Linked DNA regions of Homo sapiens: region 1 is linked to region 2. A link means that fine-mapping ties the variant in region 2 to the expression of a gene that starts in the linked region. Tissue or cell type: sun-exposed skin. Region 2 holds a variant in brackets; the other region holds the start of a gene. All regions are shown on one strand. Distances are between the middles of the regions.

The links. PIP is the estimated chance that this variant, and not a neighbour inherited with it, causes the effect.
Region 1: CAPN8 starts here. The variant in region 2 is fine-mapped to the expression of CAPN8 in sun-exposed skin (GTEx, PIP 0.91).

The regions. Positions count from the first base shown.
Region 1 is chr1:223,661,240-223,669,343 of GRCh38, reverse strand. CAPN8 (calpain 8) reads left to right here and starts at 3,643. Exons shown (of 21, transcript NM_001143962.2): 1 at 3,643-3,934. The coding sequence starts at 3,698.
Region 2 is chr1:223,543,888-223,551,991 of GRCh38, reverse strand. CAPN8 (calpain 8) reads left to right here. Exons shown (of 21, transcript NM_001143962.2): 15 at 975-1,032; 16 at 2,610-2,674; 17 at 6,693-6,761; 18 at 7,142-7,220; 19 at 7,809-7,925. Among named protein-coding and RNA genes, the nearest start is that of CAPN8, 120 kb to the left of the region's middle. RefSeq lists enhancers at 727-786, 1,187-1,236. The variant C/T (reference allele first, on the strand shown) is at 4,578.

The DNA of each region.
Region 1 (8,104 bases), 120 kb before region 2:
TCCTTTCTAAGGGGATAATACAGCCTTGATCCTTTTGACTGAGAGGAGCCATGTATAGATACAGCTCAGCATCCCCACTTGGCTGGTGTGCACAGAGAAGAGGCAGCATTCACCTGGGCTCTTTGCCGAGAAGTGTTCTTATTAAGGAGGTGCTGCCAGGCGTGTGTCAGTTGTGTCTGCACACCCTCATCAACCTCTTAGTGGATCCTCAGGCTGCCTGGCAAGGAGCTGGCACTGGTTCCTGTGGTGCCTGGGGTGTGAGGCTGGAGAGACATCTGTCCAGGTGGACAGAGACAGTGGATGCAGGCTGCTTCCTCCTGGGTACCTGGCTGGAGAACACATAGATGTTTGCTGTCTGCTCATGAGGCGCTGGGGAGCAGAGACTTCTCAACTCCACTTGTTCTTTTTGTGCCTGGATACAAGGAAGGCTCTATTTTCAGTGGCTCAGACCTGCCAGCCTCGATGAGGAAGGGTTTGTTTGCACAGCATCTGGATGTGGGAGCGAGGTAATTCAGGCAGGTGGGGTAGGAAGGAGATTGCTAACCTCGAAGGAGTTCCCTTGTGCAGAAGGAAAATTACCAGCTGTGCTTATTCTGTGATTGGATGGAGGAAGGGCTTGTTCATTTTAGTCAGTCTAAGGGGAATGTTTCTGGGAGGTGTAGGGGAGAAAGAGGCAAGAAAAACAATCCCATAGGATCCTTGCTAATGAACTAATGACCCTGCCGGAAGGTGTCAGGTCCATTATACCTGGTGCACGTTTATCCACAGCACATCTCATACCTGTAGGTGTATATTCATGCAACAAATATTTATTGAGTCCCTACTATGTTCCAGGAGCTTTCTAGGGTTCAGGAATACAACAATGAGTAAAACAAACAGGGGTAATTGTCCTCGTGGAGATCAGAGCCTTATGGGGTGGAGAGGCATTAATTAAATGATTACAGGAATCGGTGCGGGACAGGGTCTTGCAGGTTGCTATGAGAGCGTATAAGAGGGGAAAATGGCTTAGTATGAGGTGTGGAGTTGTCCAGAAAACCTTTTCTGGGGCACCCAGGTCTACTGGATGAACAGGGCTGGGGTGGGGAGAAGAACATTTCAGGTGGAGGGCACAGAAGGTGTCAAGCCCTGAAGCAGGACAGAACACAACATTCCAGGAATGGAAAGAAAGCCAGGAGGGGAGAATGGAGCAGGAGGAAAGGTAGGCAGGGCCAGCTGCTCAAGGTCTAATGGGCTGTGCAAAATCCCCCTTACTCTTCTCCCAGGAACAGTGGGCAGCCATTGGAGGTTTTAAGCTTGGCAGTGACACAGCCAAGATTTGCAATGACCATTCTGTTTTGACTGAATGGAGTTGTGGTTCTGGTTTTAGGGGTGGTTGGGGCCACCCAAGTGAGACCGTGTCAACTGTGTGGGCCGGTGAAAATGTAACTGTGAACACTAGATGAGCTTAATAGTGGGCAGATGTGGAATCAAAGGGAAAGTGATGTTGAGGGAAGGAAGACGGGGTCCCCAAGGGGGCATGGACCATAGTCTTTCTGAGGCTAGCTTTAGCCTCTGAAGGCCATTTTGGCCTTGAATTTCTTTTTCTTTCTTTCTTTCTTTTTTTTTTTTTCAGGCAGGGTTTCATCACTCTGTCACCCAGGCTGGAGTGGGTGACTCACTGCAGCCTTGACCTGACCTCCTGGGCTCAAGTGATCCTCCTACCTCAGCCTCTTGAGTAGCTGGGACTACAGGCATGCACCACCATGCCCAGCTAATTTTTCTTTTTTTTTTTTTAGAGACTGGGTCTTGTTATGTTGCCCAGGCTGGTCTTGAACTCCTGGGCTCATGCAATCCTCCTGCCTCAGCCTCCCAAAGTGCTGAGATTACAGATCTGAGCCACCATGCCTGGCCTGGCCTTGAGTTTCTGATGAAACCTGGGAAACCACATGTTTTTCTGAACACCTGGGAGCAACCCTTCTTTCTACTTGCTCAGACCTACCCACCTAGCTAAGTGCTTAACACGTGGACTGTCATTGGCTTAGAAGGTCAGAGTTGGAGGCCTCAGAGGTCGGCTGGTCCAGAGCTTCTCAGAGGGCATCCCTGGATCCTTGTATTAGCATCATCTCTGTGGTACTGGTTTAAAAACTGCAGATTCCTGGGTCTTACTTCAGACCTCCTGAATTAGAACTCTTTTTTGGGAGGGATGGGGGTGGAGGATTTGTGGTAGCACCTATTAGGGAATCAGCATTTTGAGCGAGTGCTCCAGGGGATTCTTCTGCACACTATATTTGTTTCCTGCGTCTTCTGTAACAAATGACCACAAATATGGTGGCTTAGAACAACATACATGTATTCTGTCACCGTTCTGGAGGCCAGAAGTCCCAAGGCTGTGAAATCGAGGTGTTGGAAGGCCCACATCCCTCCAGCGGCTCTAGGGGAGAATCCATTCTTGCCCCTTCCAGCTCCTGTGGCTGCTGGTGTTCCCTGGAGTGGGGCAGGATCTCGCTAACCTCTGCCTGCCTCATTTCATCACCTCTCCTTTTTGTCTATTGTCAAATCTTCTTCTGCCTTCCTCTTAGGACACTTGTGTATTTAGGGTCAGGATAATCTTCCCATCTCGAGATCCTTAACTTAGTCATAGCAGCAAAAACCCTTTTCCCAGATAAGGGACTATTTACAGGTTCTCAAGATGAGGACCTGGTATCCTTGGGGGACCATTTTCTAGTGTGCCACAAACACTGAAGTTCAAAAAGCATTGGTGTGGTTGACATCCTTCGGGTAGACCAGATGTAGGAAACTGGAGCCCAGAGAGAAGTGACTAATCCAAGGTCATACAGCTTGTAACTCACTTCTGAGATTGGAATCAAGGCTCCTGATTCCAAGGCCTTTCTGGGAATCCTGGCTTCAAGGAATAGTGATACCTGACATTCACTGAATGTTACTTCATACTGTTCTAAGCAGATGACATGTACTATCTCATCACTCTTCCGAACAACCCTTTGTGGTAGGCTCTCCTATGCTCTTCCAGTTTATAGATAAAAAAACTTAGGAGAAAAGAGGTTAAACAACTTGCCCAACATGACAGAGCAAATTACCGGGGGAGCTGGGATAGAAACCGAGGCAGTCAGAGGCCAAAGCGTTCACTCACAGGTGGAACCTCCTCCAGTCAGGCTTATTCCAAATCTGGCCTGTGAATCACTACTCTCTGGTATTTTTTGCCTTCCTAGGAAATATGCACCAAAACATTTCTGGCAGGAAAGGAGGCCCCTGTAACTACTTGCCTTCTTCCTGCTCAGAGCCATGCCTCCAATTCCTTGATGAATATTTGCTTCAAGCTGCTCAATAAGCCTTCTCATCTCAGTCAATGGGCTTGAAGCAAGGTAAGCAGGTCTTGCAAAGAGGTGTGTGGAGGGAATGCCGGGGTGGGGTCAAGATCCTAATGGATTTCTTAGGCTAATGGCCTGGGATGGGCCCTGGAAAGTTCCCAGACCCCAAATTATTTGCAAAAGGCAGAAGAAGAAGGTGGGGCAGATTGGCCTGGACCTTGGGTACATATTTGTCCCTGGCCATGACTCACTTCCTTCTGGAACAGGGCCTCAGGTGAAATGTTTGTCTGCTCCACCTCCTTTAGTGCCTTATAGCTCCCCTCCCAGTGGAGCAGGTGTCTGAGAGTACAGTGCAGCCCTGCCCTTCTGTCCACCCTACAGAGCCCACGGCCATGGCAGCCCAGGCAGCTGGTGTATCTAGGCAGCGGGCAGCCACTCAAGGTCTTGGCTCCAACCAAAACGCTTTGAAGTACTTGGGCCAGGATTTCAAGACCCTGAGGCAACAGTGCTTGGACTCAGGGGTCCTATTTAAGGACCCTGAGTTCCCAGCATGTCCATCAGCTTTGGGCTACAAGGATCTTGGACCAGGCTCTCCGCAAACTCAAGGCATCATCTGGAAGCGGCCCACGGTAAGGAAGCGGGCTTGCTGTTGAGTGACATACAAGGTGGAGGGGCCTTACATCTGATCAGGAGGAACTGAGGGAGAAGTTGAGGCTGTGGACCCTAAGTGTCTGGATCTCATATTTCAGATCCCTCCACCACCACCTTTTTTAATTTTATTTTTTTGAGATGGAGTCTTGCTCTGTCACCCAGGCTGGAGTGCAATGGCATGATCTCAGCTCACTGCAACCTCTACCTCCTGGGTTTGAGTGATTCTCCTGCCTCAGCCTCCCGAGTAGCTGGGATTACAGGCATGTGCCACCATGTCTGGCTAATTTTGTATTTTTAGTAGAGATGGGGTTTCTCCATGTTGGTCAGGCTGGTCTCAAACTCCCAACCTCAGGTGATCCATCTGCCTCAGCCTTCCAAAGTGCTGGGATAGCAGGCATGAGCCACTGCATCTGGCCCCCCCATCACCTTTTGAACTCTTATTTTTTTTGAGGCAGAGTCTCACTCTGTCACCCAGACTGGAGTGCAGTGGTGCGATCACAGTGCACTGCAACCTCAACCTTCCTGGGCTCAGGTGATTTTCCTACCTTAACCTCCCAAGTAGCTGGGATTATAGGCACGTGCCACCACACCCAGCTAATGTTTACATATTTTTGTAGAGACAGGGTTGTGCTGTGTTGCCCAGGGTGGTCTTGGACTCCTGGGCTTAAGCCATCTGCCCACCTCAGCCTCCCAAAGTGTTAGGATTACAGATGTGAGCCACTACACCCAGCCTGAACTCTTGTTCAGAGATGGTGAGGTATAGAGAGAAGAGCATGGATGAGCTTTGGAACTAGGTAAGATAGATTTGAATCCTAGCTCTGCCTGTGTTGTTTTGGGCCGGTAAACTCTGTGAACCTTAGTTTTCTCATCTGTAAAATGGCATTTACTGGCACCTTATTTTTCAGGGTTGGTATGAGAATTAGAGATAAATCTCAGAGCATAGTGCCCAGAACATAATAGATGCAGAATACGTAGTTGTTATTACTGCATATGGTCCCTGGGCCAGTGCACAATGGAACAACTCAGTGCTGGATGCAATCAGCTGGCAGGTAAATTGTGACAACATCATTGCTGAAAGGTGCACGGTTGCGCAAGGTCATGAATTGACATTATTCCATCAGGGCTGGTGAGTGGAGAGGTGGGAGCTGGGGCTCTGTGGATGCAGACGGAAGGCAGAGGCTCCTGGATGCGGTTACTGATACTACCCAAAGCTCAAGGGCAAGGGATGGAGAACAGTCCTCCCAAAACCTAGACCCATGACCTATCACTATGTGACCCTTGTCAAGTGATTCCTCAGGGATGAGAACCTCTCCCATACAGAGTGGTTGTGAGAATTGAGCTCATCCATACAAAGTGCTCTGTTCAACAGAGCTCATAACAACGTCTCAGGAGAGGGGCTATGAAATGACCTGGGCACCTTTTGTCTTCTAAACCATGATAGGGAAATTAAGTCAGGGTTCCTATTTTCTTGGCAGTGGTTGAAACAGGAAGACAAAGGGAGAGTACTTCTTCTAAAATGGTCAAAATCACTATTTAACTCCAGCTAGCTACCTCTACCCTTTTTACTTTGATCCTGCTGATTTTGCCTAACAGTTTTCATCTCTGAGAATAACTCCTTGGCCATGCTGCCCTCCCGCCCACCGTGGTTCATCTTCCCATTCCCCTCTGAAACCTATAGGGTTACCCTGGTATGTTGATAAAATCCAGATTGGGAGTAATGGTTTTTATTCTAATTTCAAGACAGCCACATTTCATTTCAACAGACAGTTTTTTTGAGCTTCCATTTTGTGCCAGGCATGGGCTCTGCACTGATTGGAAAGGTGGTCAGGGAGAAGCTGAGGAAGGAGCTGTGGTCTCAGCTCTGATGGAAAGTGTGGGGAGACACAGGTGTGAATAAAGGACAGATGCCCAAGGCAGAATGAAGTAAGAACTCTACAGAGGCATAAATGATGGGCCATGGGAACCTGGGTTGTCACAACTGGGTGGTGAAAAGCCTTAGGGAGGGGTACCATTGCAGATCCCAAGGGTCTTGGGGGAGAGGAAGGAGGGGGAGAAAATTTTCCTTTAGAGACCAAAGTCAGGTATCAGTTAACCTTTGCTTAGTTTTTCTCCTTTCTTTGAAATCCTTAGAGACTTTACCTCCTTAACCACATAGCCTGTTCTTCCCCAAACTATGTCTTCACCTGTCCTCGTGGTCTGTGGAAATGCGGTAATTGTAGACTGGATGTGCTGATTTGTGGCTGTCAAAGGAGGAAGTAAAATTCAGAGCATGAGGCAGTAGAACCTGAGTAATGCGGAAGGTGCAATTGAAGGACTCCTATTTGGAGTTTTCAAGTGCGTGTTGAGTAAATAAATGCGTGTCAAAATTTAACCTCTCCTTCCCTAATCATCAGTGAAAAATTATCACACAGCTGCTTTTGGGCAGGCTCATGCTCACATACCACAAGGGTACATTAGAGAAGGCAGACTTATCCTCTAAGATCTTACAGTTATTGAATAGACTCCTGAATCAGTAAAGATTCTGATCCTATCTCTATGAGGAACATGCATTGAATGCTGAGAAAATTAGCCTGATCCTAAATGCTTCATTATTATTTTTTCCTCCCAAGAGGCCTTTCAAGGGTTTGCAAAGAGATCAGGGTATCCAGAAATGTGGTGCATTGTAAGTTCATTTGTTGCATTTACTCATTTATTTTTAAATTGTGGTATGATACACATAACATAAAATTTGCCATCTTAACCCCTTCTAAATGCACAGTTCAGTGGCATTAAGTACATTCCCATTGCTATGCAACCATCACCACCCTCCATCACCAGAATTGTTTTTATCTTGCAAAACAGAAACTAAATACACATTTAAAAACTCCCCATTCATTCTTCCCCGAATTTCGTTTCCTTTCTTTTCTTTTTTCTTTTTCTTTCTTTCTTTTTTTTTGTTTGAGATAGAGTCTTTCTCTGTTGCCCAGGCTGGAGTGCAGTGGCGCGATCTTGGCTCCCTGCAACCTCTGCCTCCCCAGTTCAAGCGATTCTCCTGCCTCAGCCTCCTGAGTAGCTGGGATTACAGGCACCTGCCACCAAGCCTGGCTAATTTTTTGTACTTTTAGTAGAGATCGGGTGTTGCCATGTTGGCCAGGATGGTCTGGAACTCCTGACCTCAAGTGATTCAATCACCTCGGCCTCCCAAAGTGCTGGGATTACAGGTGTGAGCCACTGCGCCTGGCCCTTCTCCCCAGTTTCTGACAACTGTTCTCCTTTCTGTCTCTTTGAATTTGATTATGTTGGGTACCTCATATAAGTGGAATTATACAGTATTTGTCCTTTTGTGACTGGCATAACTCACTTAGCATAATATCCTCAAGATTCATCCATGTTGTGGCATATGTCAAAATTTCCTTCCTTTCAAAGGTTGAATAGTATTCTGTGGTGTCTATAGACCACATTTTGTTTATTCATTTGTCCATTGTTGGTCTTGGGTTGCTTCCACTTTTGGTTATTGTGAATCATGCTGCTACAAACATGGGCATACAAACTTCTCTTTGAGACCCTGCTTCCAGTTCTTTTTGTTATATACCCAAAAGATATGACCCATGGCTGGATCATATGGCAGTTCTACGTTCAAGTTTTTGAGGAACCACAGTGCTGTTTTATATAGTGGTTGCACCATTTTGCATTCCCACCAGCAGTGCACAGGGTTCCTATTTCTCCACATCCTTGCCAATGTTTGTTATTTTCTTTCATTTTTTTTCTTTTTTGAGATGGAGTTTCACTCTTGTCTTGTCACCCAGGCCGGAGTACAATGGTGCGAATTCGGCTCACTGTAACCTCTGCCCCTCGGGTTCAAGTGATTCTCCTGCTTCAGACTCCCGAGTAGCTGGGATTACAGGCACTCGTAACAATGCCCAACAAATTTTTATATTTTTAGTAGAGACAGGGTTTTGCCATGTTGGCCAGGCTGGTCTTGAACTCCTGACCTCAGTTGATCTGCCCACCTTGGCCTCCCAAAGTGCTAGGATTACAGGTGTGAGCCACTGCACTCAGCCATTTTCTGTTTTTTGATAGTAGCCATTCTAATGGGTGTGAGGTGACATTTCATTGTGGTTTTGATTTGCATTTCCCCAAAGATCAGTGATGGTGAGCATCTTTTCATG
Region 2 (8,104 bases):
TCTTCCCTCTGGCTCAGTGTTTATCCCAGATGCACACAGAATATGCTATTCTCTCAATCTCTGCCCCCAGTTTGAGATGGGCTCCTATGTGAAATACCAACTCCTGTAGGTGTGGTGGGGAAAGCCGGCACTTTGGGGTGAACCAACCTTAGGTTTCCAAGTCTAGCTCTGCCTCTTGGTAGCTACAAACCACAAGCAATTACGTCACATGAAAATGACAAATGATGTTGCATGTATACAGTGTTCAGCAGTTTACAAAATCACGACTTCCTTAACTTGAAAATGGCTGTGGAATTGTGCTGAGGATTTAAGGATCTTCCACACTGGCTCTGGCACATCTGGTTCAATCCTATCACTGCTGTTCCTGTTACTTTATCCCTGTTCAAGCGAGCCCTGTGAAAGGCAGCAGGACCCTGGCATGGCAGCCTTCTGCCACGGTGTGTACCACACTCATGGCACTAACACACCTCTGGCCAGGCTGCTGGGATCCCCAAAAGAAGAGGATAATTTGAGTTTTTAAAGATGCCACCTGCTTTTAAAATCACAGGGCCAGCCGGGCACGGTGGCTCATGCCTGTAATCCTAGCACTCTGGGAGGCTGAGGTGGGCAGATCACGATGTCAGGAGTTCAAGATCATCCTGGCCAACATGGTGAAACCCCGTCTCTACTAAAAATACAAAAATTAGCCAGGCGTGGTGGCACGCATCTGTAGTCCCAGCTACTTAGGAGGCTGAGGCAGGAGAATTGCTTGAGCCTGGGAAATGGAGGTTGCAGTGAGCAGAGATTGCGGCACTACACTCCAGCTTGAGTGACAGAGTAAGACTGTCTCAAAAAAAAACAAAAAACAAAAACAAATAAACCTCACAGGGCCAGTGGGCCTGGTGTCTGACTGTGAGGAAGCACTGCATTAATTTACTGTCTTGAAACAACTTGTCAGGGCCTGACATGATTTGCATTTGGGTTCCTCTTTCTAGGATTCTGAGATTACTGCCAATGCACTCAAGATACTTTTGAATGAGGCGTTTTCCAAGAGTAAGTTCCTTCTTGGGGTCTTTCAGAAAGTCCGTAGGAGATGCTGGGGCAGGGTGAGGGATGGGTAGGCAGGCATTGGGCTGGCAGCACCACAGGTGGGAGAAAGGGCATTGGTGTCTGACCCCAGGAGCCCTGATTCAGTCCAGCAAGACAAGAGGGGAAGAAGGAGAGGCAGAAGACGGGGAGGCGAGGGTGGAGGTGAAGGCGGGGCTGGTGCTGGCAAGCAGCCAGCACCTGAAGGAACAAAGCTCCATAGTGTCAAGTGAAATTGCAGGCTGAGTCCCAGGAGAAAAAGAGCTGGGCTGGGATTGACTTAAGTGAATTTTTTTCACAAAATTAATAACTTGGATACTGTGGAAACCTCTGCAGATGAAAGATCTAGTTCTGTAGCTCATCTTGAGGGAAGGAGGAAGGAAGGGATGATTCTGACTCTCCTAGACTGTCCTCAGTTCCCCATCTTCAGATTTTTGCAAGCCTCAGAGCTGTCAGGAGGAAAGATTTGCATCTCCCCTCTGAGCCCCAGCCCACAGGAGGACACAGGGAGCTGGTTTCTTTCCGGGTCCAGGGATGGGCCAGGTTAAGTCTTCCAGTGAGTGATGGGCTCTCATTCACTCACTGCAGCAGGACAGGGCTTGAGAATGCAGGAAGCAGGGGCTTGGCCCAGGAGCCAAGTCATACCCTTCCCAGGGACGAACCCAGGGCTGAGCAGATGGATCCCCAGGGCTCGGAGCACAGGCCCGTCTCCTCTCCACACCACTCTTGCTCCTGCAGTTGTTGAAGAGTGGAGAGAAAGAGAAGGGGTTGCAGGGTCTTTGGCACCTGTCTTGGCTCCCAGGTATATGGAAGGTGAGGGTGGAGGCCAGGGATGGAGCTCCAGTGACATGCCTGCAATTTAGTAAGGAAGGATAGCTGCTGTCATTGAGTGGCTGTGTGTTGTGATTACAAGCTCAGGCTGTGGAGCTGGCTGGCCTGCATTTAACTCCTAGCTTTGCCCCCTACTGGTTGTGACCTTGAGCAAATCATATAACCTCTCTGGGACTCAGATTCCTGATCTATAAAGTGGGTATAATGATAGCATCTACCACACGGAGTGATTTTGAAGAGTAGATGTGCAGTGCTTATAACAATACCTAGCCATATAAAGTTAGCTGTTTTATTAAGAACTTATCATATATCAAGCCTGGGCTAAAACTTCACTTTCATTATCTCAGTTAATACCCAGCCAGTCTTTGGGGCAAGTATGGTCATTGTTACTATCATGATTATTCCCATTTGATGGAGGAGGAAATTAAAGCTCAAAGATATTAATTTGCTGAAGTCTGTGGCTTGTGGGGAGCCAAGCCAAGGTTCAGATGCTGTACTTGGATGCTGGTGCTTGTCTGTTCTATCTCCCACGGCACCAGGAGGCTCAGGCGTATCTGCCCACAAGCCTGCCATGATGCTCTCCCCTTTTGGCAGAGACCAAGTTCGGTTCCACACCCTTGGATGGTATCTTTGGAGGTCTTCTACCGTGGAGGTTCTTTCCCTCACCTTCAAATGATCCGATTCCCACTCCCCTTTTCTATTTAAATCTTTAGGAACAGACATAAAATTCGATGGATTCAACATCAACACTTGCAGGGAAATGATCAGTCTGTTGGATGTATCCTTTAAATGTTGCATTATTTTTTTTTTTTTACTTTCGTCCGGTTTTTAAAGACTCCTCCACCTTTTCCAGTTAGAAGGAAGGGACGGGTAAAAAATGAGAAGGGGAGAGAGCAGGCATGGAGCATATGTCAAGGATTGTACTTGAAGCCTCAAAGGAAAATGTATCATATCATGGATGTGTCTCAGAAAGCTTGAGATTATCTCCGTTTCACAGGTGAAGAAACCGAGGTGTGCAGTGTTTAGGTGACTTATTTAAAATCATGTAATCTGGAGGTAGCAAGCATGGGGCATTTGCGCACCTGCTCCCTCCACACTCTGTTCATCTCTTCATCTTCCTCCTCCCCTTCAATTCTACCCGTCCCCACCCCCACCCTCTACCGTTCCCTGCTTCCCAAGCTCTCCCCATCACTATCTGATCTTTGCTTCAGAATCTTAACATGGCTTGTGGACAGCTACTACTGATAGTTTAGAGTTATCACACAAGATAAAATCTATTTGTTCTCCCTGATCTAGTTTAACCCTCACTTGATATTGAAGTATGGTGTGTTAGGCTGTTCTGGCTGCTGTAACAGGAGACCATAAACTGGGTGGCTTATAAACAACAGAAATTTATTTCTTACTCTTCTGGAGGCTGAGAAGGCCAAGATCAAGGTGCTGGTAGATTTTGTGGTGGATAAGGGCCAGTTTCCTAGTTCATAGATGGCATCTTCTTGCTATAACTTCACATGGTAGATGGGGTGAGGGAGTTTCCTGGGGTTCCTTTTATAAGGGCACTAATTTCATTTCTGAGGGTTCCACCCTCATGACCTAATTACCTCCCAAAGGCCCATCTCCTAATATCCTCACATGAGGATTGGGTTTCAGCATACAAATTTTGGAGGACAAAAACACTCAGTCTATAGCAAATGGGCAGTAGTTTTTGGGAGGAATGGAGAAGGTCAGGGCATTCTAGGTGGAAGGAACCTTCTAGGTGTGAAGGCACAGAGGGTGAGTGGTGTAACATCACTTCCTTAGAGCTTTGCCCACAGTGGGTCCAGGTTGCCATTTATCACAGTGCTGATGGTGAAGGTGATTTCTTTAAAAATTGGAGCCTTGGAGGGTTTTTCTCAGTTCCTTGGGGCCTCATCCATGATGAGCTCTGTCTGTTCATCCATGATGATCTTTACTGTGGGTTCTTTCATTAACTGCGGGACGGGAGGAAGGATTTTCCTTTGCATGGTTGTCATGCAGAGTGGTCCTGGATGACAGAGCATGTGTGCCCACCTCTGCGTGGCTGATCCACCATGGAGGGCTGGTGCTATCTTTTGGCCTCTGAGCTTCAGTCGGCCACTCCCTGCATGAGGCTGGGGCTCTTTAGCCCTCGTGTCTTTTCTCCATGCTTGACAATTTAATTTGTGGACTGCAAGGAACTGTTAAGTATTGATTCACTTTACTGCAAATAGTTCCCTGGTTTCTGAATCATTCTCATCAAACCCCATCTGTTGACTTCAGTTTAGATTTGAGAGTTGCCTTGTAATCTACCCACTCTTTATTCCCAATGGTATTTGTGTCTCTCACGGTTCAAAGAGGAGTGTGACTCTCTGCCACTCTTCAGGAGTTTCTGTTCCACAGTTTAGGTAGTGTGGGGCAGTGGTTCTGAATCAGCAGAAATACCCATGGAATCCTTAAAAAAATAACAACTCTATTGAGATATCATTTACACACCATACAGCGTACTCATTTAAAGTATATCAGGCAATGGCTTTTGTGTATTCAGAGTTAAGCAACCATCATCACATAATTTAGAACATTGTCATCACCCTAAAAAGAAACCCTGTACTCCTATTACCAGTCGCTCTCCATTTCCCCCAACCTCCACGACCATCCCTAGGCAACCACTAATTTACTTTCTGTCTCTA[C/T]AAATTTGTCTATTGTGGACATTTCATATAATGAAATTATACAATATGTGGTCCTTTGTAATTGACTTTTTTTACTGAACATGATGTTTCAATTACTATAGCATGTATCAGTACTTTATCACCCATGGGGTGTTAAAAATACAGTTTAAAAATACAGTCTTTCACATGTCCTACAAAGTGCTAGAAAAAAAATTTTAAAAATTGACGGGGCGCAGGGGCTGATGCCTGTCATCCCAGCACTTTGGGTGGCACTGGTGGGCAGATCACTTAAGGCCAGGAGTTCGAGACCAGTCTGGAACACAGTGAAATCCTGTCTCTACTAAAAATACAAAAATTAGCCAGGCGTGATGGCACATGTCTGTAATCCCAGCTACTGGGGAGGCTGAAGCACGAGAATCGCTTGAGCCTGGGAGATAGAGGTTGCGGTGAGTGAAGATCACACTGCTACACTCCAGCCTGGGTGAGAGAGTGAGACTCTGTCTCAAACAACAACAACAACAACAACAACAACAACAACAACAACAACAACCACAAAACAAACAAAAACCCCTGATTCCTGGAGATCCTGATTCCATAGGTGTGGTCTCTGCAAGCAATTTTATCTGGAATTGAAGACCACTGGTGTTCTGGGACAAAGGTTTTGAAACAGACAGGGGTCCAAATTCTGGCTCTACCACTTATTGAGGTGTATAAATTTGAGGAAGTTACTAAATGCTCTGAACTTCAGTTTCTCCTGGAAAATGGGATAATTATGTCTAGCTTGTGTGGCTATTGTTAGGATGAAATGAGATACAAGTATGTAGAGTACCTAGCCCCGAGTGTTAGCTTCCTTTGCATACTACTGTTCTGAGATGTGTTGGTTGAATTATTAGTAAGGATTTGAAGGCTATGATGCATTCAACACTCAGTGCGGATTATAGATCCAAGAACACAGACTTTCTTAAAGTATGAGGCTTACAGGACTTTTTGTTTGGCTAATTAAAGTGATAGTCTGTTTTAGAATTCTAATTATTTATTCAGAGATGGGGTCTTATTATGTTGCCCAGGCTGGAGTGCAGTGGCTATTCACAGGCATAATCTGAGCTCACTGCAGCCTCAAACTCCTGGGCTCAAGCAATCCCCCTGCCTCAGCCTCCTGAGTAGCTGGGGCTGTTTCAAAATTTTAACATTGGTGCTGTAACATACGCACTGTTTATTGATTAGTTGTGACTGGTGAGAAAATTGTAGAGTCTCTAAAAAACTTAACTTTAGGAGCATAAGTGCATTCAAAACTAAATCCCTATTGACTAGCACAGCGTTAAAAAAAAATAGTCGTGGCACTTTGGGAGGCTGAGGCAGGCAGATCATTTGAGGTCAGGAGTTCAAGACCAGACTGGCCAACATGGTGAAACCATCTCTACTAAAAAAAAAAAAAAAAAAAAAAAATTAGTGGAGTATGGTGGCGGGTGCCTGTAATCCCTGCTACTTGGGAGACTGACATGGAGAATTGCTTGAACCCTGGAGGCAGTGGTTGTAGTGAGCTGAGATCACACCACTGTACTCCAGCCTGGGCGACAGAGAGACTCCGTCTCAAAAAAAAAAAAAAAAAAAAAAGTTGTGGAGTGAATGTAAGTTGGACACAGAAAATCCCTCATAATATCCTCCTGTTTGGTTGTATAGTGGCCTATGAGCAGATTCTGTGGCTTAGACTCCCAGTCCCATGGTTCCTGGCTCCTGATGTCTTTTCCCATAACATTTTGACATTCCAACAAACTCTAATTAGCTGAATGATCAATCACAGAAATGTAAATGTAGAAGCGAATTTACAGATCATACAGCTCCACCCTGTAAATAAACCAGGATGATTAGGGTATTCACGATATTGCAGATTGGCCAGCTCATGACTTGCCCTTTGTTCCTAGCTCTGTGCCTGGCCTCAGAGGAGAGCCTTGGTGCACGTTTGACTTTTTAATCTTTATTTGAACCTGTTACACACCGTCACCCCCACTGCTCTGCTTGCCACAGACATGGAAGGTTCACTAAGGCCTTAAGGCACTCATGCAAGCTCACAAGAGAAAGAAATCTATAAGGCATGTAGAATTTGGACTCAATCATGTTGGTCTTTAATGTGCCTAGAGCAATGGAACGGGCACTTTGGGGGCGGTGGAATTCAAGACGCTCTGGCTGAAGATTCAGAAGTATCTGGTAACTCTCTTTTCCTTCTGGGCATCCTCTCCTCTGTTCTAATCCTCCCTTACACTCATTCCTGGTCCATTGTATTCTGACCACATCCTTAATCATGGTCAAAACTATTGAGTCCTGGGCACATTGGTCATGAAGGAACAAGAAGGCAATGAGAGACTCTCATGCCAACCACTGCCCTGAAAGCCCTGCTGTTCAGACAGCAAAGGGGCCAGCACTGGCCAAGCTCTTATGCTTGCTCTGAAACCTTCTTGGGAGGAGTCAATAGGGTCTCCTTTTGAAAGTGTCCCTGGCCTTTTGAGAAAGCAGTGTGGTGGAGGGAGATGGTTCTGGCAGGGGCCGTGAATGGTTGTTTTCTACTTGGGATTTCTTTCCTGCTTTAGGAGATCTATTGGGAAACTGATTATAACCACTCGGGCACCATCGATGCCCACGAGATGAGGACAGCCCTCAGGAAGGCAGGTGAGGACACATCCTGTAGACAGGGTCTTGGGATCCAGGTGTGCACATTGTAAATATTTATTCTCATGATGATGATTGCTAATGATCATCATTTGTAGCTTTCTTATATGGGATATCAAGGCAACAACAGAGCTTTGTTGAGTACCTTCCCTGTCCAGGAAGGGGAGAATATTGCTCGATTCCATATAGCATAATATTTTAGAATTTTTCCAAGATCTCTGCCTGTTACTGGGAAGGTGACAGCAATTACAGAGGAAGGGGCTATGAAGGAGACAGACAGGAACTGGCCAGACAGGCAGCCCCCTCACCTTCTCTGCTTTTGCTTGCTGATGTGACCCATGGCTGAGTTGGTGCTGGTACTAGCGCTGGACCTGGAATTAGGCTGATCTTGGTGAGGAGTAGCTACAAGGAGAGGGATGGATGGCAGGACACCTTCTGGGATCCCCTGGAGAAGGCAGAGTCAGGCCTGGTTTGCAGATTGATACAGAACCACAGAGGGGCCCCTGGGATGTCAGCTCCTTGAGTGTTTATGGGAGACAGTGCTGAGTCCTCCACTCTACCTGTGACCCAGGCTCCCTCTGCCCTCAGGTTTCACCCTCAACAGCCAGGTGCAGCAGACCATTGCCCTGCGGTATGCGTGCAGCAAGCTTGGCATCAACTTTGACAGCTTCGTGGCTTGTATGATCCGCCTGGAGACCCTCTTCAGTGAGTCACTCTGTCCTCCAGCCCCATCCTATTAATCCCAAGGTGCAAGGTGGGGCAGGGGCAGGGCCAAGGGGCAGAACCAGACATTGCCTTTAGGAGGCCAGGGACCCAGAAAATGATAGACAGGGCTTCTGGAATGCTGGCACCTTGGGGGCGAGGGGCAGCTGGACCTGAAGGGG